Linked DNA regions of Homo sapiens. The protein of the gene in region 4 interacts with the protein of the main gene of each other region in a pairwise test. Each region holds a gene or a part of one and is shown on either strand. Other genes may lie near its edges.

Region 1 (7,030 bases), on a different chromosome or scaffold from region 4:
GTACTAGGCCTCTGTGAGCTGGGTCCCTTTTGATTTTGGGTGTGTGTGTGTGTGTGTGTGTGTGCACGCGCGCGCGTGCTTTGAACAGCTAAGAACTTGGAGCTGCCTCCGTTTCTGTCAGTGGTTGTTAATTCTGGCCTGACAAGGCTACTTTTTTCTTCCTGCTGTCTGTATTTAGGATTACAGGTGGAGTAAAACTTCGGTGGGGATTTAGAAAATTAGGGCAGTTGAGAAATTAGGGCAGGTGGGGAAGCTTGCTCAAGCCCCAGATACTAATTTCCCTGAGACCAAATCACCCCCAGTGTGGCAGGCTCAAGGTTTTTTGTTTGACCTTAGGTGAAGTTCTTTCTGGGGCTCACCAAGAGGGTAACCACATACGTTTTTTCCAGAATGTGGTAGTGTCTCAGACTTCTACATGCTTTCTTTAGAAGCTGAAAAAGAAGAATGTAGTCATCTAGGCAATACCACTCTGAACCTGCCTGATCTCAGAAGCCAAGTGAGTCAGGCCAGGTTAGTACTTGGATGGGAGACCACCTGGAAATACCAGGTGCTGGAGGCTTAAAACGAAGAACAGAATAGCTTATTCATGGTCCGTCAATCCTCAGTACCAGTCTAGTGGGAATCTTCAGTGAATTAACCTTTTTCTAGGGCTGCAGAGTTTAGTTGGTTTGCCCATAGCACTATCGAAGTTACAGGCTATATGCATTATCAGGTAGCTCCCACATCTGGGCTGCCACCTTTCAGAAGTTGATAGTCCAGGAGGCACATGGACCAGTTCAGATTCATTACAAACACAGGGAAAGTGCTCCAGTATTTTTAATCCATCTTTCCTTGCCTCGCGTAAGTGTAAAAGGCAGTGGAGTGGGGGTATTGTGATCCTATTGATTGGATTTCAGGTCCTGCTTTAGTCTGTGACCTTGAAAAGAATCATTAGCTTCTTTGGTTCTGTCTTAAAAGGAATGAAAATTATTGCTCACTATATCCCTTCTAACATGGGGAAGGTGATGAGGAATATGCTGGCAATGAATTTATAATGGAAAAAGTCTAACATTTCTCTTCCATACTTCTTTCAGAATCGGCTACAGTCTCAAAGGGCAATGCTTCTGCAGGGCACTGAAAGCCTGAACCGGGCCACCCAAAGTATTGAACGTTCTCATCGGATTGCCACAGAGACTGACCAGATTGGCTCAGAAATCATAGAAGAGCTGGGGGAACAACGAGACCAGTTAGAACGTACCAAGAGTAGAGTAAGTCTGGGCAGACAGGGAAAGGGGCAAGTATGGGGTAATTAGGGGGCCACTGCACCTGGAAACCGTACTAAGGCCAAAAGCTACAGCAGTTCTGTATTCAGGGAATAGTCTTTTTTAAGTTCTTATGCTTTTCTCAATTTTTATTTATTAATTTTTTTTTTTTTTTTGAGATAGAGTCTCACTGTGTCACCCAGGCTGGAGTGCAGTGGCGTGATCTCCACTTGCTGCAACCTCCGCATCCTGGGTTCAAGCGATTCTCTTGCCTCAGCCTCCTGAGTAGCTGGGATTACAGGCATGCGCCACCATGCCTAGCTAATGTTTGTATTTTTAGTAGAGATGGGGTTTCGCCATGTTGGCCAGGCTGGTCTCGAACTCCTAACTTCAGGTGATCCACCTGCTCCGGCCTCCCAAAGTGCTAGGATTATAGGCGTGAGCCACTGTGCCCGGCCGCTTTGCTCAATTTTTAGTTTGCTTGGCTGAGAGATGTCCCTTAGAAGCAATTTTACCCCTAAGATTTAGACATCACTGGAAATTTTTGCTTCAGTGAGGGGAAAAAAAGATGGAAGGACCTGATTTCTACACTTACAAGATTACAGAAATTAATAAGGATAAAGTGGCTGCATTCTCTCTTTGGCAAGAGAAATAATATGTCAAAAGGCACTTAAGGATTCAAAGCTTCCAATCTGAGATTTTAATTTCTCACACATCTAATAGGGTATTCTGCTATTCTTACGAAAACATCATCTGCTTATATCCTGTTATTTAGAGCCAAGGCTGTTTTCCAGATTTCATAAAATAGTACCACAGTTTATAGATTTATAAATTATGCTTCAATCCTGGACTATAACCCTTTACTGTTATGTAAGTAAAAGTAAAAAAAAAAAAGTAATAGGGAAAAAAATGTCTAAGGATTATCCAGTAAGGTAAGCTGGATCATTGTGGAAAGAAAACAAATATTTAAATCAAATGATGACTATATCAGGGATCTCTAGTCTGCTGTCACTCTGAGAGCCTCAGAAAAATAACTCATTTATTTTTTCCTTTCCATAAATGAGTTAACCTACATAGGAATTTTTTAGTTTTTTAGAGACAGGGTCTTGCTCTGTCACCCAGGCTGGAGTGCAGCAGTGCAATTTTAACTTACTGTAGCTTCAAACTCCTGGGCTCAAGTGATCCTCATGTGTAGCTGCGATACAGGCATGTGCTACTGTGCCTGGCTAATTGTTTTAATTTTTTGTAAAAACGGGGTCTCATTATGTTGCCAAAGTTGCTCTCGAACTCCTGGGCTCAAGCAATCATTCCACCTTGGCCTCCCAAAGCGCTAGGATTACAGGCATGAGCCACTGTGCCCAGCTGGAATTTTTTTTTTTTTTTTTTTTTTTTTGAGATGGAGTCTTGCTCTGTCGCCCAGGCTGGAGTGCAGTGGCGCAATCTCGGCTCGCTGCAAGCTCCGCCTCCCAGGTTCATGCCATTCTCCTGCCTCGGCCTCCCGAGTAGCTGGGACTACAGGCGTCTGCCACCACACCCGGCTAATTTTTCGTATTTTTAGTAGAGACGGGGTTTCACCATTTTAGCAAGGATGGTCTCGATCTCTTAACCTCATGATCTGCCCGCCTCAGCCTCCCAAAGTGCTAGAATTATAAGCGTGAGCCACTGCGCCCGGGCAAAATTTTTTAATTGGTACAATTTACCAATGGAATGCTGTATTCTTAATAGCAGAAGGCAAATCAATTTGAAAAACATACTGTGGCCAAGATTTGGACAGGAAAATACTAGCTCAGTGTGAAGATTTGAGTAGATTTTCTTAATAGCTTCAGTTCTCCATTAAGTCAGAGTAATGCCCTGCCCTCTTCAGTGAAAATTCACAATAAAGTACTACATTCAAGGCAAGCTATGGAGAATGTAACTTGCTTACAGATTGTGTGGGTTTTGGTTTTTGAACATACCAGGTAGATTGGTTGAATTTAAAAGCCAAGGAGGCCGGGCTTACACCTGTAATTTTAGCACTTTGGGAGGCTGAGGTGGGAGGATGGCTTGAGCCTAGGAGTTTGAAACCAGCCTGGGCAACATAGCGAGACCTCATCTCTAGAGCGAGACCTCATCTCTATAGCGAGACCTCATCTCTACTAAAAATCAAAAAAAGGAGCAGGGTGTGGTGGCGTGCACCTGTGATCCCAGCTACTTGGGGACATGTGGGGTTATTGCTTGAGCCTGGGAGGTCGAGGCTGCAGTGAGCTGCGATTGCAGCACTGCACTCCAGCCTGAGTGACGGAGTGAGACCCTGTTTCAAATAAATAAAAGCCAAGGAACGAGCTGAGAGGTCAGCTTACCAAGGCCACTGGGGAATGGGAACAGATGGCAAGTAGCCATCTGCTGGAGGTGAAATATCCTCCAGCTGTCCAGATTAGTAGCAAGCAGTTGAAAGTTCCATGGAGGTTAATTCTTTTCACAGTTCAATGTAACTGTCTCTTAAGAGGGTAAAGAAAAAAACCAGATCCCAAAAGCAGTAACAGACCAGCCTACAAAAACAAATGCCAACTCAAGAGGCTGTCCTGGAATTTGGCTGATGAAATTCAAATCTTAAGTTGCTCTACAGTCACTGGCTGGCCAGTCTGCTGGCTACACTTGAAGCCTTCCCTTTTGGAGTAGCCACGGTAGAAGATTAGCTCAGTCTCAGGAGTCCATCCCCAGCAGCAACCTGGGAAGATGATTCTTAAGCCTACTTGATGAGTACTAAAATATCTTGTCCTTTCCAGGTTCTTCTACTTACACTCAAAGGCCATCATTTAAATTGGCTTGATTTCTTGGAATTTTTCAACATATATCCCTTAATGCCTACTGTTAATCTAGGGATATTCAATTGTACAGAGTATACTTTTTAAAGAGGGAAATAATCACTATTTTCTCTTCTCAGCTGGTAAACACAAGTGAAAACTTGAGCAAAAGTCGGAAGATTCTCCGTTCAATGTCCAGAAAGTAAGTTTTATTAAAGTCATGAAATTTCTCTTAACTCAGTGGCTTTCAACCAAAAAGCTTAAAATAGTGACTTACAAAGGTCCTCATAAAGCACCTCAGCAGTTGACGCATAGTCCCTGTATACTCAGTACCACCCAGCAGACCAGAATAAAGACGCTAAGGAATATGGTCTTGGATAATTAAATAACTCAGGATAAAATCATTTGTTAAAAGTATATACTGCTTTGACTTGGAGCAGTGAAAAATTTCTCCACTGAAAGGACATTTAATCACAGCTGATGTTCTTTAGAGAAGGCAACACATGGGAATAACAGCTTCCTATTCCTTGAAATATATTTATATAATCTCAGCCCCGTGCGGTGGCTCATGCCTGTAATCCCAGCACCTTGGGAGGCTGAAGCGGGCAGATCACAAGGTCAGGAGTTCAAGACCAGTCTGGCTCAAATGGTGAAACCCGTCTCTACTAAAAATACAAAAAAATTAGCCAGGCGTAGTGGCGGGCACTGTAATCCCAGCTACTCAGGAGGCTGAGACAGAATTGCTTGAACCTGGGGGGTGGAGGTTGCAGTGAGCCGAGATGGCACCACTGCACTCTAGCCTGGGGGACAAAGCGAGACTCCGTCTCAAAAAAAAAAGAAATATATTTGTAAAATCTTGATTAGAAAGTAGTTTTCACTTGCATAGTACTTGCTTTTGGCTCTGCTTGCCCTTCATGGGAGTCAGCTCCTTTTCTGGAAGTTCTATATTGTAGGGAAGAAGTAGACTTTTAAAAATAAAACCCTTGTGGAGTTGTCAGGGTTCTTGGGCAGTAACTGAGTCAAGATGCTGCAGAATCTGCTGGCACTGTCAGGTTGCCCAGAGGACCATGAGCATTGCTTCATGCAGGCATTTTGAAAATAAAGGTCCAGAAAACACAAGCTGTTTCAGGAGAAGAATGGAATTCCAGTGCATCTAAAGGGTGGTAGAGCTGATGACCTCCTGTATAGAGCCACCATGGTTCTCAGTTAGTGAAACAGCATATGCCATGCATCAGCTGGCTGTGGTTTCATTTCCCAAGAAATGGGATTGACTTCAGTCATCACAGCAGTGACTTGATTCAGTTTCATTCAGCTCTGTATGGACTCCTAGTCCATAGAGAATAAATAAGTCCTTCTTTGAAGACAATATTTGAATTGTACTAACTGCCACCAATACAGTAGTCTTTACCAAAAATAAAAAACAAAATCCTCGAGTGCTAACAGCAACAAATCCAGGGCAGAAATACTGCCACTGAGGTTGAAGTTGGGGGTAAGAGGGTATTGTACGTGACCTTGGGCACAGGTGGCCTAGCATGAAACAAAACTACAACCCACTCATGGAACTAGCAGGAGGGGTGGGATTTTCCTACAGTGATAAATTCCTTGTGGACTAGGGAGAAACCTAGAGTGAACATGAGAACCAGAGGTTGGATTCTTTATGTAAACAACAGATAGGAAAATTTTTAAGCTCCTATACTACCTTTATAACATACCCATTTGGGTTGATAGGAGAGCAAAGGGAAAAATAGGGCAGAGGGAAGAAGTTTACAAGGGATTGAAAGGTATTACCCAGGCTTCTAGTTACTTATCCTAGGGCAGGACCCATCCTGAGCTGGATGTCTATTTGATTACTTTTTCTAGCTAACCCTTCTTTCTAGAAAAGCTATTTTTAAAGGAAGTAACTACTATTTGAACAACATTTCAGAATCCATTTTTATGCTTTGGTTTTTATTGTCTCAGTTTAACATTTCTGTGAGGTAGACAGTGTTATCCCTAAGTGACAGCTAAAGAACCTTATGAGTACTTCCTGCTAAGTGGCTGTGTGATCAAACATACAGCCTCAGAGTATCCAGCCGTGGTCCCAGGTCTAACCCCAAAATGTTTAGAAGGAAGGTTATCCAAACTTCTGACTACTCCCCACTTTGCTTCTCTTTGTAGAGTGACAACCAACAAGCTGCTGCTTTCCATTATCATCTTACTGGAGCTCGCCATCCTGGGAGGCCTGGTTTACTACAAATTCTTTCGCAGCCATTGAACTTCTATAGGGAAGGGTTTGTGGACCAGAACTTTGACCTTGTGAATGCATGATGTTAGGGATGTGGATAGAATAAGCATATTGCTGCTGTGGGCTGACAGTTCAAGGATGCACTGTATAGCCAGGCTGTGGGAGGAGGGAGGAAAGATGAAAAACCACTTAAATGTGAAGGAACAACAGCAACAAGACCAGTATGATATACCAAGGTAATAAATGCTGTTTATGACTTCTTTAAATTTACATAGTACTGTAGCATATTAATACCCTGTGAACTGCAAAAAACCAAATACATTTACAGTAGTATTGGTCACCAAAATAGAGGGGAAACTTTACAATTGTGAGAATGTGTAAATGTTCTCATTAAGGCAGTATTGACCCAGACAACCATTTAGTATTCATCTATCCCCTCAATGCCTCATAATTCTGGAATGCCTGTTGTGAAACATGTCAGTGCACAGTGTCTCCTAAATTCTCACACGTGCTTGATTTTCTGATTCATCTGGTGAACTGGGAGTAGGAAGTTGGTCATAGACAATATGCCCTCCTTCTCTTGTCTGACCAAAGCTTGAAGCAATCACATCTACTGCCAGGTTAGCTGTAGTCTTCGCCTCTTCCTCTGAGGTGGCCAACTGAGGATTGACTTCAACAAGATCCAGTGCTGATAGCAACCCTGGAAGAACAAAGTGTGACAAAACCTCAGGTTCCCTTGCTGCTACTCTCAGTGAGGGTCATCCCACTGGGACAGGGAGAAC
Region 2 (6,912 bases), on a different chromosome or scaffold from region 4:
CATCACACTTGAGCATTTTAGGTTAGATTTAAAATAAAATTCACCAGTGAATGGTAAAATATCAATTTTACCCAACCTGCCCTTTTGTAGAAGGGGCAACACATCGGTTAAGAGAGTCTCTGAAATGGGGAAGAAGGTTAATCTACCCTGAGAGAAATAGCACAGAGGAAAAAGCAGCTTGAAAGGCAGAAGGCAAACTTCAAAAATGTCACAATTTTGCCTAGGTTAGGTCTAAAGAGCAAAACAAACACATAAAGTACCATCATACTAAGGTATTTTTGTTCAGGGACCTATCAATGAGCACAGTGATGATTCACATGTCTATGAAAATGTGCTTTTTAAACTAGTCTGACTTGACTTATCAAGAATTCTTAACAAATCACTTTCAACAATAAAAACTGTTTTACAATTTCACCTGTATTTTTACCTTTAATAAGAGTTATTTAAGCACTGATTATTCTACTAGATGCTAAATTGCCTATTATATTTAATGCATGTGAAAAGTTGAATCTGAGCCCTAATGTTTTACTAAAACAACATAAAAGGTTACATTCCTTAATATAAAAGTAAAACTGAATTTAGGGAACAAACTCTTGGCAATAAAAACAGCCTTTCCTCTGCCTTCCCTCTTTTGCCTGGTAGTATTGATACTGCCACTGTGTCACCTCCTATGCTAAAAAAGTTTTCACTGAGTCACATTCAATTACAATTCCAGAAAAACAGCTCCATGTTGAGACATTACTCAACTTCTCAAGCAGTTTCTTTACTAAACCACTATATAATAAGACTAGCAGGAGGACAAACAATAAACTGCTCCTTTATTGACCTTCTCACTCCTCTCCTCTCAACCCAAAGAGGTTTTCGGGAAAATGGCTTATGGATGGCAGCAGTTTGCACTTGTTACTATTCACTATAACAGGTCCCTGGATTGTAACTGCAGAGACCATTTGAGTTACGGTCTTTTTCAAGCTATATGTGGGTCACATTTTATAAAACCATTATTTTATTCATGCATTTTTCCACAGGTTCTGAATCGGTCATTACGAATTAAAGAAATGAGGCAGTAGGCAAATAAGAAGTACATGTTATGATTCATTGATTCTTGTCTCAGAACTTCCTGTTAAGCTGATTATATGTCTGCATTTTTAAATGCTTAGATTTCTCTTATTAAACAAAGTACCTCGTAGGCAAAAGTGACACGGTCCTCATCATTTTCTTTAAATGACGCTCTATTTCATTTATTCCAACTACAGCTTCTCAAGTATGTTAACAGAAATCTCAGTAGTGTCAAAGGATCTAATAGAATTGTTTCCATCGAAAATGATGAATTCTGGAAGAGTACTACACCAAAACAATTATGGAATTATACATTTTAACTTATATTTTCATATTTTACTAATACTTCGTATATGTTTTTAATGTACCTTCAAACCACGTTAAAGGGTCTTATTTAAAAACATTTTCCAAGTAAGCATGGAAAAGCTAAAATAAGCCTTAAATAATTTAGTCTGGCTCTCTGATGGTATAGAGAAAATAACATGGGTCATTGCCCTACCTGTAAACCCACAGCTGGATAGTGACAGAAATGGGACTAGAATCTAGTTTTTCTTTCCACGACACCAAATCTCATTTGGCTCTTTCTTTCCAGTGGATTTCTCACCTCAATTCTTCAAATATCTTTTTGCTTTTAAGAGATGGCACAAACTAAGGAAAAACAGAGCATCTCTCCGAATTTTACCTTTAAAATAAGTAAAATCTAAAGAGTTGGAAGAATTTAATATTACACCAAAAGCCTTTTAATCCAGGAATGGCGCATACTAAGCAGTCATCAAATGGTGACTGTTATTAATATTATTCTTACCACAAGGAAAGCAGTGAATTTTTAAAAGTGCATATATTAGCATAGTAGGCTGAGGACCTATTTAACACATCTTTTTAAATTGCACTTAATTATCCTTAGTCGCCTTTGGACTGTAACTTTACAATATAATTTATGACCCGCCCACAATGACCTTGATTTTTTTTTCTCTTCTACTTTTAGAGACTGCTATATTGCAATATTTTAAAGTAATAATTGGTCATGTCCTCTCAGCCCTGGTGATACAGACATCCACCCTGACTCTCAAGGGATCTTAAAATGTGACCCACATATAGCTTGAAAAAGACCGTAACTTAAATGGACTCTGCAGTTACAATCCAGCGACCTGTTACAGTGAACAGTAACAAGTGCAAACTGCTGCCATCCATAAGCCATTTTCCGAAAACCTCTTTGGATCAAGAGGAGAGGAGTGAGAAGGTCAATAAAGGAGCAAACTGTTTGTCCTCTCTGCAGCTTCACACCAGAAGTCTGGAATGAATGAAAAGCTCTGGAATAGCACAGAGAAACCCGGGATCCCAGTGCAGGTCTCCAGACGGGGGTGCGGGGAGAGAAACTGTAGTTTACAAGCGAGAAACTCAGGATACAGATTTAAAATAAATAAATAAATAACTAGCCAACATCGTCTCGACTAGAGCAGGAACCCCCCACCCCCAGTTGAGGGAGGAGCACTTAGCAAGGGGCTGTAGCTCTAGCAGAAGACGCTCTGAAAAAGGCCAGGCCTGGGGCGGGGAGGCACCGAGAAACCCCCGGGTTCCAAACAGAGCAGGTGCAGGGGGCGTGCAGGAACAGGTGAGGGCGTCCCGGCGCGGAGGAGCGGCGGGCGGGCCCGGCAGAGCGGAGCGGGGGCCGGGGATGGGGGTGGGGGTGCGGATGGGGATGGGGGTGGGGGCGGCCGCTTCGCCCCCGCGCCTGCACACTCACCGTCGCCGCTGGCTCGCCTCTCGCTGCCGCCGCTCTCCCGACCGCCAGCAGCTCTTTCCCCTCCTCCTGCCGCGCCACCTCCGCCTCCTCCGGCGCCGCCGCCCAGGCCGGGCCGCTCTCCCCTTCCGCTTCCGGGAGCCTGAGGGCCTGGACCGGCCGAGTGGGTGTCCGCATGCCCGCGCGCCCGCGTGGGGAGGGACGACTGCCGCCGTCGCCGTCTCGCTTAGCTCCCGGGAGCCGCGATGGGAGCCGCTGAGGGCCGAAACTCCTGCAATCGCGCCGCAGCCCCAGAGCCGCGGACCCAGGCAGACCGCACTCTCCAGAGCGCTTGCACCTGGCGCGCCTGGGCGCCTCTGCCCCTCCCCAGCCCTACTTGAGCCGTCCTTCTCATTGTCCCCATATCCTCACTGCTCACCTCTCCCGAGAGACAGGATGGGGGCCTTAGCTTAAAAGATTGCATGTATCCTTTCTTCGGGGGATGTGGCCAGCAGGCCTCTCTCCCCGCAGGTGTTCTGGGATGTCCCATGGTACCTTGCTTCAAAGCGCGGTCTGCAGCATCAGCATCCTCTGGGAACTCACAATCTTTGAAATGCACAATTTCAGGCCTGCTGAATCAGTACATGCACTTCAGCAAGATCACCAGGTGACTCCTGGGGTGCACCGTAAAGATGGAAAAGCATTGCACTGTAGTGCATGGTCTCGTCCACTTCAGACCCTCTATTGGGTTGCCTCAGACATCCCAGGATATTTCCTGTTCCTGTCCTCAACCTAAATCCACACCCAAACAATCTTTTCTTATATTTTGGGAGACCTCCAAAAGTTTCCTGCTTTCCCATCCCTGCAAAAGCCGACAACTTTTGGACTCAGCGATGCAAGTAATCCACCTCTCAGTCTAACTTGGTATCTTCACCAAACACCAGAGATCTACTAACTTTCCCACCTCACTCCGGCTGAACAGTATTTGGGGAAGGTTAAACCGTTTGCAGTAATGTGGAGCTAGATCTTTCTGCCCACGTGCCACAGGAGGAGACAGTGTGTTGGTGGAAGAAATATTACCTGTTGTATAAAATCTGTATTCCTTATAAGATGTGCTTAAAAGCCCTCCACAGACACATCCCTACCTACCTCTCCAGTCTTAGCTCCAACTAATTTGGTTCATTTCCCCATTCTAGAATGCCCTGCTCTCTGATGATCTTAACCCTATCCAGATTTGAGAGTGGAAATCTTGCCAAACCAGAGTTCTCTCACCACTGCCCTTATATAGTGCACATTGTTGCCTGTTTGGGGCCTCATATTACCTTGTATTGCTAAGGATTTTTAAACATGTTGTGTCCTGGTTTCTGAACTAATTATAAACACCTTGTGACCTTAAAAACTTTGGTCAGTGGTTATCAAAGTGGGATCCCTAGACCAGCAGCATCGGTATCACCTGTCAACTTGTGAGAAATCCATATTCTTTTGCCCCATCCCAGATCTACTGTAGTAGAAACTGTTTAGGTGTAGCCCAGCAATCCGTGATGTAACAAGCCTTTTAGGTGATCCTAATACACACTCAAGTTTTAGAATTACTGACCTAGATTACTAGATATTCCCAAAAGAACCCAGTGGTAGGAATTGATTTACCCATAAGCAGATTTTATTGCCTTTCAGGTTAACAAATACACTCCCCGATATATGCATAGCGAGGTTGAAAGACTAGTCACGATTGCTTTTGATAGAATTACCTTTATTTTTCATAAATCATTTGATGTAGTAGGATTTTTGTAACTTTCTCTGTTTGAAAAGAAGGAGATATTTCATATAAACAATCACTTTGAAGGAAGAGGAAATGTGGAATCCTCCCACCGGAATCCAGCTACCTGATTGCGTATTCAATGTGAATCCCTTCTACCCAAATCCAGCTACCTGATTGCATATTAAATGTGGACTCCTCCCTACCCGAATCCAGCTACCAGAATTGCATATTAAATGTAAAATCCCCCCCCCACCCAAATCCAGCTACCCAATTGCATATTAAAAGTAGAATCCCCTCCACCTGAATCCAGCTACATGAATTGCATATTATTTTGCTTTCTCTTCAGATACCCCTGTGAGAGGGAATAATTTGTGACAAGTGATCTCAAAACTGCCAAAATAAGAATTAGTTGACAGGTCCATGATTGCACATGACAATTGGAAGTGCATGGATTTTTCAGTCCCTTTTTAAAATAAGTTAGCCTGTCTTTTATCAGCCAAATCAATTCCACAGAGAATTTTTAAGCAAGGGAATAGGAGAGAAGAGGCAGGAGAAACATCCTTAAAAACATGAACCTTTTTAGCATGGGCATTTCATGAGTATAATCAAAGGCCTGCCTATCCCTTACACTGAAGGTCAAGTCATCTGGTTCTATCATTCATGCTAATCATTGGTTATATTGTATTGCAACCCATACATTCAGGCACCTGGGTAACAATAAGGGGGTGAGGGAGATGTGGCATCAGGTAATCTTTTGAAAAGATTTTCTATTTACTGGGTATATTATGGAAAGACGATATAGATCGTACCATATTTTTTCCCTCCAGAATTCTAATCTACTTCATGGGGCCTGGGACAAACTGAAATGTGATTATTAATCAAACTAATATTTATCTGGAAGTAGAAAAAGTAGACAAGGACAAGTAGCATTGCTGCCACTGCCAACCAAGCTTCTAACAAAGGCACACTCAGGGCATTTATGAGGGTAAACACAGCCAACTCCTGTGCTTCTGTGCCGTGACTAGGGAGGATCTGGATTTTAGTGCAATTTCCAAAAATCAGTGCAGTCCAGAGTTTAATCAGTACTGGCTAATAGCCCTTGGCAGCTTTGGATGGATGGCATTCTCCACCTGCCCAGCTGGGTACCATGCCTTAAGCACCCATATTTGATGCACATTCATGATTTCTTGGTTGCCTATAGTTGTCTCTCCCATCTGTTTGAGTGGCAGAGTGCCTGTGCCATAACAATCTAATATTCTAAAAGTTGTTCTTAACCTCTTCTCTTTTGGGTTACACATCTCTTTGAGTATCTGATGAAAGTTGTGGACCCCAGCAAAGTACACATATACACAAATACACACACACACACACACACACACACATATATACACACACACATACAGGAACATATATATTTATATATATGAAATTTATATATATGAAGTTTCACAAGTTGCCCCACCTTCCTATGCCTCCAAAGGATCACAGCGAAGCCAGGAACTTCAGGCTAAGAAATATCCCTAGAATGTAGAGAGTAGGTAAAATAAACATTTTTCCCCAAATATCAAGGAAAACTGCAAAACAAACAAACAAAAACGACTGTGTGCTTAGGAGAAAAAAACAATAGCAGTGCTAAACAGAGTTACAAGGAAAGTTTTATGGAAGTGCTAATGAAGAAACTAGTAATTTCCATGGGATAGTTCAAGGGTGGCTTCTTGGAGAATGGTTCCTGTATCAGGCAAGTGAGAATAGGATTTTGATTGGGGGAAAGGAGGGAAAGAAATTTCAGGACAGAGGAAAGTGTAAGCAAAAACATAGAGAAATGAAAGTGCAAGAATCCCTCTGGTGTGGCTCAAAGGTAGGATACATGGAAAGAGAGAGGGCTGGAAATGTGGAACAGATTCCAAGCATGGTGAGCCTCAGAAACAATGCTATTCCCAATGAAGAGTCCTTAGGCTTTTGGCAAAAGGTGATGACCTGCTCCAAGCTGGAAAAGACTATTAGTGAGGGCAGTGGTATTATCAAAAGGCAGAGTAGTGGGGCATCTGGAAAGGTTCTAAGTATACTACATTGGAACCTGTTAGGCCACATTGCTTTACCTCAACTTTGGATTGTTTGATGGTGGCTCTAGAAGTTTCTATTCAATTAAATCATGATGAACCTGAGATTCTTACACTTGGTTAAGTGCTAGTAGGAAAACGCATCCTAGTGAATGTTCTGATGAGTTGAGTCTAGGATGCTGAAAGAGTTAAAATCTCTTTTGGATTAAAAGAGTGAGAATCAATTTGGACTGAAAAGAGAAAAGAAGCCCTGCCACTAATCAGACAAGGAGGACAGACACAGATAAAGCCAGCTGCAAAATTAGCAGGAAACACTT
Region 3 (7,691 bases), on a different chromosome or scaffold from region 4:
GTTGTAGCCACTGAAGGCACTTGCTCAATATGCCCTGAGGGCTCTGGTAGGGGACGAAGACCCACGGGGACCTCTGGGGACTCCCTGGCGGGGACTGGGGAACCAGGGGAGGGGGCGGGGCAGTACCTAACAGCTCTGGCACGGACTTGCTTCGGGTGCCCAGCGAAGGTGGATGGTCAGGGCACAGAGTGTGGCAGGCAGTGGTGACGAAGGGACTGGCCAGGCTGGTTGTGGCAGTCACAAGGTGGTCCAGAACACCCCCCTCCTGAGGAGACGGGGCAAAGGGGAGGCTCAAGGTAGCCTGCAGCCGTTCTAGGAGTGAAGGGGCAACCTGGGCCTGGGCCTGGGCCTGGGCCACGAGCCCGGACAAGGCCGGCCACTCGGGCTTGTAGTGCTGGCTAAGCTGCTCCACTTGGGGCCGCCTCAGCAGCTGCCGAATCCTCCACACGGTGTCGAAGCTGTCGGTCAGCACTGCCCATTCCAGGGCCGTCTTGCCCCGAACAGGGTCCACTGCTGTCAGGTCAGCACCTGGGAAGGAGCACAGGGGGTGACATGGGGCGGGATAGGGGTTGGTGATTTGTGGAAGGGCAGATTCTTTAGGAGCAAGACTGATGTGGGTTACATTCGAAGCCATAGAGTCCCATCCTGTTGAAGGTGGAATCAGGGAGGCCAGTGTTGCAACCTCCTGTTTAAGAGAGATTAAGACACTTAGGTCCAGAGAGGGGAAAAGACTTCAGAGAGACCTATTGTGGGGCTCCACCTAGGGCAGAATAGGGATCTCCTCAATCCAAGGAGCTGAGCAGAGCAGCGGTGCAGGCTGCCCAGGACAGGCAGAGGCCTGAGCTGCACCCTCTGGGGCAGGTGGGTGGGGATGATCGGCTGGTTCCCTCTCCTGGTTCTTCTCTTCTCACCATCTCCCTCTCCCATCTTGGGGTTGTGGGAGGAGCAGTCACTCTAAGACAAAAGAAAGGGTGTAGAGCGCCCTCCTTTTTCATTCACTCCTTTTTCACTCCAAACCCAGTGGGGTGTGTGGGGAAGGGAAAAATGGAGGCAGGGGTCCCCCAGAGTGACCAGCAGAGGGCAGCCCCACTGCGGGGAAGAAGGGCCCCCAAACAACTCCATGGACAATGTGGACTTCACCGCACCTCCCCCTGAACGACCCCACAGAGCCACAGGCCTCAACGACACTTCCCTGGATCCCCTGGAAGCCTGGCTTGTCAGAGTTGGAGGTAGTCCCAGGGAAAGCTAACACCCTCACAATACTGGTGAGGCCCAAAGAGGGAAGCCACTCAGCTAGGAACAGGGGCTGGTTCCAGATGCCAGCCTTTTTTCGTGTTAGATTTTCCAGCTGGGCTAGGTTCCCCTCCCACACTTTCCTTCCTGGGACCTCCACACACAATGTCTGAGCTATCAATAGCAGGACTTGGTTGATTGTACGAAGCCCAAATCATGTGCCCCCCCCTCCAGGAAGGTGAACTAGATTGATCCCCCATCTCCACCTCTCTCCTTTCTGCAAATAATCACAGCTGACTTAGTGTCTGGTGGGAAGGCTTGGAGGAGGGACTGGAGGCCACACACCCCGGTCCAGGCCCCGCACACCTGCCATGAGGAGGGTGGCCACGCACTCACAGCGGTTCCGCATGGCAGCCTTCATTAACGCCGTGAGCCCCCGCTGGTCCCGGCGTTCCAGGTCCAGGCCCACATAGTAGTTGAGCAGGAGACTCACTAGAGGCACGTGGCCTGCAGGGCAGCAAGGGTAAGCTTGGTCCCCAGGAAAGGGGGTGATGAAGCTCCCAAACCGCCCTCCACCCAGCATGACAGAGTCTGGTGTAGAACACCGTGCAACAAGGGTGGGGCTGAGGCCCTGTCTGCATCAAAAGGGGGCTGTCGGAAGTGGGGTGCAGCAGCCTCACACCTGCTTGGGCAGCCAACATGAGGGCCGTGTCCCCTCCTTTGTCCTGCTGGTTCACATCAAGGAAAGGACAGTGGCTGAGCAGGGCCACAACACTCTGGAAGCCGTGGTAGCATGCGACCATGAGGCCTGTCTGAGGGAGGGGCAGCTCAGATCCCCTGCTTTCCCCCTGGGCCACTCCAGGGCCCCTTGCACCCTCTAAACCCATATCTGTCCCAGAGCCTGCCCCAAACCCCGTGAAGACCCGCCCTTAACCATTCCCTTCCTCCTTAGGACTGCAGGAGGTATTGCCCCTGAACCCCTCTCAGGGAGCCAGGCCAGGACGGTGTGGTGGGGATGCAAAGATGCCCCCAGCTGTTCTGGGAAGCCAGGACATCTCACCCTCCCATTGCTGTCCACCTGGGTGGCCTCCTCTGGGGAGACCCCACCATCCAGTATGGCTTGGAGCTGGGTGGGATCATTGTGGACACAGGCCCAATACAGGGCCCCCAGCCTGCAGCCTGGGGTGGGGGTCTCCTTGCCCGGGCAGGGCAGTGCCTCAGACATGTCCAGCCGTCTCCTGTGCAATGCCAGCTCTTCCTCTTCCAGGCAGGGAACCAGAAGGTGAGTCCCTTTTCTCATGCAGCTGGCATCTAAAACACAGAATGGAGAGGAGTAGTGAGTGTCTCCCTGGATCCTAGGGAGGGGACCCAGCAGCTGCGAAGTGCACAGCCCTTGCCCCAGGGAAAACATTTATCCCAGCAGGGGTCTCGCCCCATCCACCCTGAGAAAGGACAAGCGCTGGGTCAGGAGCCCTAAGCAAGCAGGGTTCACTCTAGGTCAGCACCCCAGTGAGACTCACGGAGAGAGGGTCGTCGTTTTTTCTTACTTGGGGTTCGTAGGGTATCTATGAGGCAGTCAACGCGGGGCACAGCCCAGGCTCCGCGGAGCACAATCACTGGGTCTCCGAATGCCTCCAGGTGGACTATCCCTCCCCAGGAAGCAACGCAGGTAACAGATGGCTGGACTTTCATAAAGAGCTGCTGCAAACACCTCGGGGCTGAGCCGGATCAAGCAGCTGGGACTGGGGCCCCATGCGGGGCGGGTGGTCACGTCTCAGGAGCGGACTCAGACCAGCCCCAAGATCCTCCGGGTGGGCGGGGCCTGAGCCGGGCAGCTCCTCCCCGCCGGGGCGGGCTCACAAAGACGACTCCTCCTGACGGACGCGCCCACTCTCAGCCTTGGGGACGCCGGCGGAGATGCTGCCTCGTGGGGTCTTGGCCCAACTTTTTAGGCCCAGCCTAAAGCCCCTCCTAATTGGGTGGAGCGCGACTTGCTGAAGGGGTGGTTGCGGGAGAGGGGGTGAGTGAATGCAGGTATCTCATTAAATAGGGTTGGTACTCTCAGAATGACCCTGGGGTGGGGTCTCCAGGGGGGTCACCTGAACTTATTTTTTGAGGTTCTGGGGAAATAAAAACATAATTGTCAAATTATGAGTATAGAGCTGGGCCCGGTGGCTCACGTCTGTTATCCCAGCGACTCAGGAGGCTGAGGTGGGAGGATCGCTTGAGCCCGGGAGGTCGAGGCTGCAATGAACCGATGTCGCGCCACTGAACTCTAGCCTGGGCAACAGAGGGAGACCTCCTTTTAAAAAAAAATTGTGGCCAGGCGGGGTGGCTCACGCCTGTAATCCCAGCACTTTGAGATTCCAAGACGGGTGGATTATCTGAGGTCAGGAGTTCAAGAACAGCCTGGCTAACATGGCAAAACCCTGTCTCTACTAAAAATACAAAAATTAGCTGGGCTTGGTGGTGGGCGCCTGTAATCCCAGCTACTCAGGAGGCTGAGGCAGGAGAATCACTTGAACCCGGGAGGCAGAGGTTGCAGTAAGCCGGGATCGCACCATTGCTCTCCAGCCTAGGCAACAAGAGCGAAACTCCTTCTCAAAAAACAAAACAAACAAACAAACGAAATTGTGAGTACCGACATTATGTGTCTAGTGCAGGTGGGCAGTCGGGGCACAAAGTGCGGCAGGCAGTAGTGAGGGAGGGATTGGCCAGAAATTATGATGTATGAAATTTAATAGATTAGTTTCAGTGTGATAAATTAAATATGAAATATTTAAATTAAATGATCTGTTAATATAATGATAAATTGTTATCAAAATATTCTTTAATATTTATATTACATATTAAGCTTGATGGATTGGTCTTGGTCCACAGATGTAGAAAATGGAGCCAATGATATTCCCCCATTGGTATCACTCCCATCATCAGACTGTACAAGACCTCTCTCTTGTTTTGTTTTACTTTCTTTAGTTTCTCTCTTTCACCCTTAATCCCCACATCCCATTCTCCTCCACCCTTTACCAACTGGCACTTGTATATCCTTGAAAATGTACATTTCATTGAAAAAGATAGTACTGATTTGTGTGTTTTTATTTTATTTTTTTCTTTTTAGAAACAGGGTCTTACTCTGTCACCTGGGCTGGAGTGGAGTGGCATGATCATAGCTTACTGCAGCCTCAAACTCCTGGGCTTAAGTGATTCTCCCACCTCAGCCTCCCGAGAAGCTACGAGCTTCTCGGAGGCACACAGGTGTGTGCCACCGCGCCTGTCTAACTTTTTTATGTAGAGATGGGGATCTCACTTTGTTGCCCAGGCTGGTCTCAAACTCCTGGCATCAAGTGATCCTCCTGTCTTGGCATCCCACAGTGCTGGGATTGCAGGCATGAGCCTCCATGCTCTGCTTGTATGTGTTTTTAACTAACATGTTATGAATTGTGCTATAGAACTTATTCTGTTAGTTTTTTCTTTTTCACTTAAGCTCCATCCTTATTGCTTTAGGTGCAGTGTATCAGTTGGATGTGCATTTGGTTTTTAGTAACCAAAAAGCTGAATGGTATGTTGTCCATAATAGACGGGCTCCTCAACATTAATCTAAAACTGCTTTCAGTGTTTCTTCTGCGCTGCAGAAGTTGGAAAGCTAAAACAACCCTTCCCAGATTCCCTTGAGCTATGACTCTGTGGTTTGCGTCCTGCTCTTGTGCAAGATATAAATTTGGAACAGAGCTACGTAGCATGGGACATCCGTTTTGCTGTCACAGGTCATGGCAGCAGCAGCAAGGCTCTGGTGAGCAGCTTCCTGATTCATCAGCTTCCTGTAGTAGTGACTGTTGTTTTCTCAATCACAGGCAGAGGTCATGTGACTCTCAAAGCTGGGGGTTGTTCCTGGACCTAAGCCTGCTTCTCCATCCCTTTCTGTTTAAACTGATCAGATTTCTTTCTTTCTTTCTTTCTTTCTTTCTTTTTTTTTTTTTTTTGAGACAGAGTTTCACTCTTGTTGCCCAGGCTGGAGTGCAATGGCGCGATCTCGGCTCACCACAACCTCCGCTTCACGGGTTCAAGTGATTCTCCTGCCTCAGCCTCCCCAGTAGCTGGGATTACAAGTATGTGCCACCACCCCGGCTAATTTTGTATTTTTAGTAGAGACGGGGTTTCTCCATGTTGGTCAGGCAGGTCTTGAACTCCTGACCTCAGTTGATCAGCCCACCTCGGCCCCCTAAAGTGCCGGGATTATAGGCGTGAGCCACTGCACCAGGTCCAGATTTATTTCTGTTGTCTGCAATTGAACTCTGACACATGTAGCTTAAACAAAGAGGTGCTTGTTTTTAATACATGATAAAAAGTTCAGGAATAGGAAACTGTTGATGTTGGTTAAGAAACTTGTCAGGGCCTTCTCTGGGATTCTCTTGACTTTTCCTCCTTGGCACAAGATGGCTGCTAAACCTCTAGCCATCACAGCAAAATGGGATAGATGCACCCTATGGAATTCTATACAGCAGTTAGAAAAAAATCTATCAGATGATAAACCAGACATCTCTGATTATCTAACACAATCCCTGTTCATAACTCCCCTTCTCTCTAGTTACCTTTCAGTTAGGTGTTATCATGTAATGCAGTTTTGGCCAATGAAATGCAAACAGAAGTCTGATGGATAGGGATTCTAGGAAAAAAGTTCATGCTGTTGTTGTAAATAAATTTTCAATGCTGCAAGGAAATAGCACTCGAACATAAATTTAATTTTCTCAGCATGGCAATTTTTACTTCTATAGAAGGGTGCGAGTCGTGAATGGAACAATGGCAAGAGCACACCTGGACAGGAGAGGAGAAGGAGTTCTTATTCCTGACACACGGCCCTACTGCTGTGGCGTTCCCCTATTGGCTAGGGTTGGACCGCACAGCCTAAGCTAATTCCGATTGGCTATTTTAAAGAGAGCAGGGATATGAGTTAGAGTGGCGGGGTGGGTAGTTTGGCGGGAAGGACAGTTAGGAACAGGGAACTAAAGGTGACTTAGATCAGAGCAGGTGACCAGGGTGACTCAGGTCAAAGCAGGTGACTGGGATGACTCAGGTCAAAGCAGATAAACGGGATGAGTCAGGATGGAGCAGCTGACCAGAGAACAGATGTGAACTACTGATTAGGACTAGAGGGAAAGTTGTTTACTAAAACCAGGAGCAAGGGAACGGAAGAGAACCAGGAAGCTAAACTTTAAAATGGATAATCAAAGAATAAGAGAGCTGAACATACTGACATACTGATTCTTTGAAGAGAAACTTGGGGTTCACTATAATTAACACTGTCTTGATGAAAGATGTAGAGTGCACCACTTTTTTTCTTTCTTTCTTCCCTCTTTCTTCCCTCTTTCTTCCTGCTTATAGAATTCCATAGTGTGCATCCACCTCATTTAGCCTATCCCTTCTTCCTGCAATAGATGCTTAGGTTGCCTCCAACTTCCTGTCACTATAAATAATGCCAAAGTGAACACCCTCATACGTATCTAGTTGTGGACCCATCGGGGTCTCTGAGATCACTAGATCACAGGGCACATACACACTTACTGAGTGGATACTCAGGTTGCACTCTGTTTCACCATGTGTGCCTACCAGCAGTGCATAAGAGTCTCCCTACGTCTTAGACAACACATGTCATTATTCAGCCTTCTAATGTTTGTCAATCTGATAGAACTATAAAGCGATATTGCTATTTTACATTGAATTTTTCTGATTATCAACAAGGTGAGCATCTCTCCACATGCCCTGCTGGCCAATCTTGTTTTCCCTCCTGTGAATTGACTGTTCATGGCCTTTGCTCAGTATTCTATTGAATTTTCCTATCCTTTTCTTATTGATTTTTCAGGAATTCTTTTAATATTCTAGATAATAAAGCCATTGTCAGATGGGTTATAGATGAGGCAACTGTACTATATAAACCCTTCTGTTAGCTTTATCTATGGTGACCTTCATTGAAATAGCTCCTGAATTTTGATATGGTTAAATTCACCAGAATTTCTCCTTATACTTTGTGTTCAGGGTCTTGTTTACTAAGAATTTTCTACTCCAAGATCACAAAGATCTTCATTTCTTTTATTAATCTTGCAGTTTTATTTTTAATATTTAGTCTTTAATTCATCTGGAATTCACTTTTATAATATTGAAGAAATAATCTGTTATAGACTAAATTGTGTCTCCCTCAACCAACCCCAATTCATATATTGAAGCCCTGACACCAAAAATGACTGTGTTTGGAGACAGGGCCTTTAAGGAGGTAATTAAGGTTAAATGAAGTTATTAGGGCAGGATAGGGCCCTAATCCAATAGAACTGTTGTCCTTATAAGAAGAGGAAGAGACACCAGAACTCTCTCTCTCTGTGCCTGCACAAGAAAAGGACACGTGAGGACACAGTCAGAAGGTACCATCTACAAGCCAAGGAGAGAGGCCTCTCTGGAGACCAATCCTG
Region 4 (7,207 bases):
ATAACAGCGTGAACCCTACTGTGAACTGCGCACGCGAGGGATCTAGGTTGTGGCTCACTGTGAGAATCTAACTAATGCCTGATGATGTGCGGTAGAACAGTTTTATCCCAAAACCATGCACCACCCACCCCCACCCGTCCACAGAAAAATTGCCTTCCACAAGACCGGTCCCTGGTGCCAAAAAGGTTGAGGACTGCTGGTTTAATGGGTACACAGTTTCAGTTTGGGAAGATGAAAAAGTTAACGGAGATAGTTGATGGTGATAATTACAAAACAATTTGAATGTATTTAATACCACCAAACTGCATACTTAAAAAGATTAAAATGGTAAATTTTATGTTTAGCATATTTTACACAATAAAAAAAAAACTTTAAAAAATTTTCAAGCGTCTTGCCTATTATCCAGTCTTCCTTTTGCTAAATGAATTTGAATCAATTTATACTACTGTATGTTTTTAAAAAGCAAAAAAGTAAAATAATCCATGTAAAATGTATTTTCCTCTAGTGAGTACTAAGCTCATGTAAAAACCAAGTTCAAGATTTCCTGCTTCTCTTTTAAAACCGAGAAATATTAATATAAAAAAATGAATCTTCTCAGAAAGAAACCTGAGGCTAAATCACTCTACTTACAAATTATTTCACTAATGTCTAGTGTGTTTAAGTGTCAAAACAAATACATTTCTGAATTTCCAAACTTTTTATTAAGTCTTTCTCCAGAGGGCCAATTCACTAGTGAGCCTCCCTGATGTCTAACTGGCATATTAGGTAATAGACAGTATAATAGATGATTAAATAGCACCGAAAATATCATTACCCATTCTCCTGTGTAAACCAGTTTTTAAGTTTTAATTCACTAATGCTTTCCTGCCTTTCAACTCTAAACATGAACAGTTGTAAAACGTTCATTACATTTCACAACCTCTGAAAGGAAAATATATTTATTACATTATAGAATTCGATGACTTGTCCCAAGACTTCTAGTGAGTCAGCTTTAAGTATGGGAAAATTCAAGTGGTGCCACCACCCAAACTGGGGCTCACATCTTTGTGGACCTAACTGATAAAGAAGAAATACATTTCATGCAAGTCAAGACTTACTTAAGAAATAACTACAACTGCACCATTTATAAACATATATAAGATTTTTTTAACATTATCGCAGAAAGTCTGAGAAACAAGATTTTTAAAAATAATTCTGTCACATATAAATATACAAAAATAGTGAGAGATCACCTTAACTTTTTCAAATTAAAAAAATCCTATGGTCAGCTGATTTTAAATCTCTTTGTCCATCTGTACTATTTTCTTTCATTTTGATATCAACCTGTTTCCCTAAACTAAAAAATAAAAATAAAAACTAGAAACAAAACAAAAAAAGACTATTAATTCAATTTAACCGGAATTGACTTGAGAAATTAAGGCTTTAATTGCTTTTGCTGTACTTTTCAAAGTAAAAATATATCTGGTGGGAAATATTCATCAACGTGTTTAGTGAAAGGCAATGTCAAAACTAACATCACCTAAAATCAAAATTTCACCTTGCCAGATTAAATAGCTACTTACTCATTTAAAAAGACCAATACATGAATGCATAGTGAAAAAGTATCCAGGTAACTTAATTTGCAGTTTTGTGTAGTTCTGCAGATCTGTATGTATAAAATAACAACTTTGCATGTGTTTTGAGATGTACACATTCTTGTAAAATTTCTAGAAGGATGTACAAAAGAGTTAAGTGACTACTTTTAAGGTACAGATCAGAGAAGGGAGTTGTTTATTTTTCACTTTATGCTCCGCTCCTTCGATAAAATGGTTGGAGTTTTATACACCGCCAACACAATGTTTTTTCAAAAGACTTCTAAATTTCACTTTGTAGTTTAAATCATACACTCTGTAAAAACTTAATTGTTTTTCATATTTATTTAATCTCCCAGATTACCTACTTTGTTGATCTCGTGGTTTGGGGGCTGAATACACTCTTCTCCAACTCCTCCAGAATCTTTTATTCTTATTCTAAAATTAAAATAATGTTATCTTTAATGTTTTCAATTTATTGTCTCATGTCATAAAAATGGTTGTTAGTTCACTGTCTTTGATATTTATCTTCACGATGCTTCATCGTGTTTTCAGAAAAGCCACAAACACCAACACAGTTGCTGGAGCTGCAGTAGAGGTATCGCTTGTTCCTTGAAAATCCTAACTCTGACCAAACAGACTGTCACAAAGGACCTCTTTTCACAACGTCAAGTAGCTTATGAGCTCTCGACAATATTACCCAACAATGGTGATGGCAGAAAAAACATTCACGGTCATTTTAGAGTGCTTAAAATTAACTGCAAGACAAAAGCATCCATGGGAGTAAAATACCTTGCCAGCTCTAAATTATAACTGATTTAGTATAGTTTGCTCATCTCTCTGTTCTGCCATTTCAATGCTGTGGGACCTGGGTCAGTATTACCAAATACCTCTCAAAAGTGAGGCTTCACATCTGTAAAATGGGTAACTGCACCTACCTCACTTAAGTCCTGCGAGCACCTCCCACAAAGGGGCTCAAAATGGCAGTACTCTTCCCTTCCCCTTCTCAAAGCTCCACTCTCCCAGGCCTCCCTCCTAACGCGCCTCCACCTCGGCACCCGCCCGTCCCCAACCCCGCGGGACTGACCGACTCGGCGGCGTCCGCTCAGCTCACCCTCGCCACCACAGAGGGCCTCCTCCCTCACAGGAACGCAGCTCCACAGTGGAGGGACGGGAAAGTGGCTCCCCAAACTCCAGTATGGGACAAGAGGGAATGAGTGCAGGTCCCAAGCCACTCCCTCCATCGTCGCGCCCCCAGGACTCCCCGCCCAACACACTAGGCACACCAGACTGTGCTACAGGAAAAGAAAAAGGACTCAGAACCACCTTCTCCGCATCCGTAAAGGTCCTTAGACTCACCGCGGGGAGGAAGCGGACCAGGCAACTCCACAGCACGGAAACACAGCGCCACGAGCTCCAGGCGGATGCTGAGAGCCGCCCCGAGTCCCCGCCCTCCTCTGCCCCGAAGGGCTTCAGGTGCCCAGACCGGGCGGGGCCTCGCGGAGCCTCGCAGCGCAGGCGCAGTCTGCAGGCAACATTCAACTGCAAGGCATCGGCCAATGGGAACTATTGCTGGGCTCGTTCGAAAGTAAACGGTGGACGGCGCGGCCCGAGGCAGGTGGCGGGAGTCAGTTTAAGGCTGGCGCCCAGCTTTCCGCGCCTGCGTGCTAGGCGCAGGCCGCCTCTCGGAAGCTTGGCCTCGCAGGAGCGGCTCTCTATCCTGTGGGGAGCTTCGGCCAGTGGGCCTCGTGAGCTGGGGTCCCGCCTGGGGAATCCGCATGGCACCGGTGGTCTGGGGGAGAGGCTGGGCCTGGCGCGGGACGAGGCGAAGCGCCGGTGGCCGACGGCTTCTGAGGAATTATCTTTTACTTGGCGCCACACGGGGCGGGGCCTCCTGCTATGCTGTGGAGCGCAGTGTCTTCCATCGTTGCCTCACAGACCCGCTGCTCCGGGAAGTCGCCACACATTCTCAGGGAACACCCACATCTGTCGCCTGCGCCCTCCGCCGCTCAGCTGTTTGCTTTTGTTTACGCATTCCGGAGACCTGACCCACCGGAGCACTGGGCTGAGCACAGGAGAAGGGGCTTTGGAGCGCTCTTTGTACTCAACTCCAAGAGCGAGTGGGAAACTCAGGACTGGGTTGGGTAGATCCCTGCGTCTCTCCCTAGCCTTCGTCCTCTTCCCCCGTTTTTCCACTTTATGAAAGTATTGCCTAGAGATGAGGGCTGTCCAACTCAACACTTCCAACTTCAAGTTCCTACTTCACCTCTAACTCCCTAGAGTTAGAAAACAACGTACAGCTTAGAGGTTCCTTTCCCTTTTTTTCTTGAGAAACTTTATTCAGCTTTATCTCAAGACATCACCGCTTCCCTCTCCTGTCAACCTTAAATAGTGAGGTTCTGGAAATATGATTAAGGATAGAGTTTATTCCAGCGTAAGGCTTGAGGGTAGCCACCCAGGAGACACCAGCTCCAAATGGGGTTAGCATTCCAAAGTGAAGAAGTTAGGGTTTCGCCTAGGTGGCCAGAGACAAATTTTAACAGGATTTCATTTCCCCTAAGAGACCAGTGCATACTTACAGCTATTTGGTAGGTTACAGATTACTACATTCCAAGAAAAAGTATTTTGTTACTCCATGAGGGGGGGTAGTGATCTCAGGGGGTTGTATCTCTGGTATGGTTTGGTCCTCCTATTTTAATTATTTATAGAAACAAAAGGCAGACGTTGCAGATGCCTGCTGCTTGACTCAGGCTGTAGCCACATTCCTCCCAAGGCTCGGAATAAAGTTCCAACAGCTTTAAGTTTGAATTATTTAACTTCCAATAACTATAAAGTCATTTTGTTTACTAATGTGCTAAATAAAGATATGGGCTCTAGGCCAGGTGCAGTGGCCCAGGCCTGTAATCCCAGCACTTTCTGGAGGCCAAGGCAGGTGGATCACCTGAGGTCAGGAGTTCGAGACCAGCCTGGCCAACATGGTGAAACCCCGTCTCTACTAAAAATACAAAAATTAGCCGGGCATGGTGGCAGGCACCTGTCATTCCAGCTAGTTGGGAGGCTGGGGCAGGAGAATCGCTTGAACCCGGGAGGCGGAGGTTGCAGTGAGCCAAAATGGCACCACTGCATTCCAGAAAAAAAAAAAAGCTATGAGCTCTATATACTGCACATTGCAGTACATCCAGGTCCTAGGCTTTTATTCAGTAAATTACAGAAAATATTAAAGATATAAAGCAGAAAGTAAGGCAATATTAGGCCTTAGTCAATCTCAGATAGCTTCACCAATTCAGCTCCTTAAAAGGTTGCTTATGAAGTGTGAATTGTAGTGGTAGCTACTGTTTCATGGTGGTAAATATTCGTTTTGACTTTATGTACATTTTCTATTAAACATTGGAGTCATCCTGATAGACATCTTTGTAACTTCCTGTCAAAACAACATGTGGGACAGGCGTGGTGGCTCATGTGTGTAATTCCAGCACTTTGGGAGGCCAAAGTGGAAGAACTGCTTGAGCCCGGGAATTTGAGAGCAGTCTGGGCCACAAAGTGAGAACCCAGCTCTACAAAAAATAAAATAATTAGCCGGAGTGGTGGCTCACACCTGTAGTCCCAGCTACTTGGAAGACTGAGGCAGGAAGATTGCTTGAGCCCAGGAAATCAGGGCCACAGTGAGTTATGATCACACCACTGCACTCCAGCCTGGGCAGCTGAGTGAGACCCTGTCTCAAAAACAAACAAAAAAACCCAACGTATTATGAATTATTTTTCCATAGCAGTAAATGTACTATATTTCTATTAAATTATTGTCTTTAAACAAAGTTTAATTGCTTCTGGAATTGAATTAATATGGCTGAAAATGTTTCTGAGCTTTAATGTTTTTCACCTGTTTTCCCCTCTGTGCTTTCTTACCTCAAAACGGTTATGTATGTAGCAAGAAAACTGAAGAACCTCACACTAGACTTACTGGCTGTTGTTTCCCAAAAAGCCTGAGCCCATGGAGAAAAATAATATTTGAGAGACCCCGCCTGCTGGGGCGCAGGCGGCAGCGGCGTGGCCATGAAGCTGAAGGTGAAGAACGTGTTTCTCGCCTACTTCCTGGTGTCGATCGCCGGCCTCCTCTACGCGCTGGCCAGCCATGTGACTGCCTTCCTCCCCTGCGGGCAGCAGCTGAGCAGCTACGGCAGAAGGATCTGAGGATTTCCCAGCTGCAAGCGGAACTCCGACGGCCACCCCCTGCCCCTGCCCAGCCCCCTGAACCCGAGGCCCTGCCTACTATCTATGTTGTTACCCCCACCTATGCCAGGCTGGTACAGAAGGCAGAGTTGGTACGGCTGTCCCAGACACTGAGCCTGGTGCCCCGGCTGCATTGACTGCTGGTGGAGGATGCTGAGGGTCCCACCCCGCTGGTCTCAGGGCTGCTGGCTGCCTCTGGCCTCCTCTTCACACACCTGGTGGTCCTCACGCCCAAAGCCCAGCGGCTTCGGGAGGGCAAGCCTGGCTGGGTTCATCCCCATGGTGTCGAGCAGCGGAACAAGGCCCTGGACTGGCTCCGGGGCAGAGGGAGTGCTGTGGGTGGGAAGAAGGACCCATCACCACCAGGGACCCAAGGAGTCGTGTACTTTGCTGACAGTGGCAACACCTACAGCTGGGAGCTGTTTGAGGAGATGCGCTGGACCCGTGGTGTCTCAGTGTGGCCTGTGGGGCTGGTGGGTGGCCTGCGAGTCAAGGGCCCTCAGGTACAGGACAGCCGGGTAGTGGGCTTCCACACAGCATGGGAGCCCAACGGGCCCTTCCCTGTGGATATGGCCGGATTTGCTGTGGCCCTGCCCTTGCTGTTAGCTAAGCCCAATGCCCAGTTTGATTCCACTGCTCCCCGGAGCCACCTGGAGAGCAGTCTTCTAAGCCACCTTGTGGATCCCAAGGACCTGGAGCCACGGGCTGCCAACTGCACTCGGGTACTGGTGTGACATACACGGACAGCGAAGCCCAAGATGAAGCAGAAGGAGCAGCTGCAGCGGCAGGGCCAGGGCTCAGACCCAGCAATTGAGGTGTGATGGCGGCCCCACCCCAACTACCACCTCTTTTCAGGCACAGACCTTGTGGGACTGGGCCCCAGGCCTGCCCAGCATGTGGTTTTCCAAGTCCTGACCGCTTGAAGCCAGAAGTGGCCCCTCTGCCCCTCCAGACCCAGGGCATGGTCCTGCTGCTTCATCTCTCCCCCAGCCTGCCATGTGGCACTGCCCACAGGCTGGGGACAAGCAGCCCTTGTATTGAGCCAGGTTGGCCCTGTCTAGGGTGGAACAGAAGGACAGACGGACCCAGGAGGGAGGGCAGCTGATTAACTGGGTAACTTATTGGGGCTGGGCAAGCACTGGGGGGCTGGAGGAGCTGGGCTGGACCCTCCCTACCTGAGCATGCTGACCCCCTTCCTACCTCCAGAATAAAGAATCTCAACCTGAAAAAAAAGAAAAAATATTTGAAGGAAGAGGCCGAATGCTTGAGAGAAGCAGAAAGAATTGTTTGCCCCTAAAATAGAGATGATTCGGGTCCTAGTGGGGGAAAACTATGACACCAAAAGGGAAGGGTTATATTGGTGCCTCCAGGGAGTCTGCTTTAGAGGCCCATGGGTTCCCAACCCTGCC

The links.
Region 1: the proteins of TRIM59 (region 4) and VTI1B interact in binary tests that used the Homo sapiens proteins (3 or more experiments, as listed by UniProt).
Region 2: the proteins of TRIM59 (region 4) and ZDHHC21 interact in binary tests that used the Homo sapiens proteins (3 or more experiments, as listed by UniProt).
Region 3: the proteins of TRIM59 (region 4) and ANKRD33 interact in binary tests that used the Homo sapiens proteins (3 or more experiments, as listed by UniProt).

The regions. Positions count from the first base shown.
Region 1 is NC_000014.9:67,650,633-67,657,662, reverse strand, and holds part of VTI1B (vesicle transport through interaction with t-SNAREs homolog 1B), read left to right. Parts: intron 1-1,073; coding exon 1,074-1,247; intron 1,248-4,164; coding exon 4,165-4,226; intron 4,227-5,954; exon of another isoform or gene 5,955-6,181; coding exon 6,182-6,278; 3' UTR 6,279-6,742; coding exon of another isoform or gene 6,743-6,948; 3' UTR 6,949-7,030. Other genes in the region: ARG2 (arginase-2, mitochondrial precursor), read right to left, coding at 6,743-6,948. UniProt on the Homo sapiens protein: V-SNARE that mediates vesicle transport pathways through interactions with t-SNAREs on the target membrane. These interactions are proposed to mediate aspects of the specificity of vesicle trafficking and to promote fusion of the lipid bilayers.
Region 2 is NC_000009.12:14,690,429-14,697,340, forward strand, and holds the start of ZDHHC21 (palmitoyltransferase ZDHHC21), read right to left. Parts: upstream 3,005-6,912; 5' UTR 2,801-3,004; intron 1-2,800. UniProt on the Homo sapiens protein: Palmitoyltransferase that catalyzes the addition of palmitate onto various protein substrates. Palmitoylates sex steroid hormone receptors, including ESR1, PGR and AR, thereby regulating their targeting to the plasma membrane.
Region 3 is NC_000012.12:51,883,421-51,891,111, reverse strand, and holds the start of ANKRD33 (photoreceptor ankyrin repeat protein), read right to left. Parts: upstream 3,010-7,691; 5' UTR 2,926-3,009; coding exon 2,781-2,925; coding exon of another isoform or gene 2,754-2,780; intron 2,545-2,753; coding exon 2,294-2,544; intron 2,046-2,293; coding exon 1,916-2,045; intron 1,741-1,915; coding exon 1,630-1,740; coding exon of another isoform or gene 1,532-1,629; exon of another isoform or gene 955-1,531; coding exon of another isoform or gene 953-954; exon of another isoform or gene 686-952; coding exon of another isoform or gene 623-685; exon of another isoform or gene 529-622; coding exon 1-528. UniProt on the Homo sapiens protein: Acts as a transcriptional repressor for CRX-activated photoreceptor gene regulation.
Region 4 is NC_000003.12:160,446,787-160,453,993, forward strand, and holds the start of TRIM59 (tripartite motif-containing protein 59), read right to left. Parts: upstream 3,001-7,207; 5' UTR 2,931-3,000; intron 2,010-2,930; 5' UTR 1,940-2,009; intron 1-1,939. UniProt on the Homo sapiens protein: E3 ubiquitin ligase involved in different processes such as development and immune response. Serves as a negative regulator for innate immune signaling pathways by suppressing RLR-induced activation of IRF3/7 and NF-kappa-B via interaction with adapter ECSIT.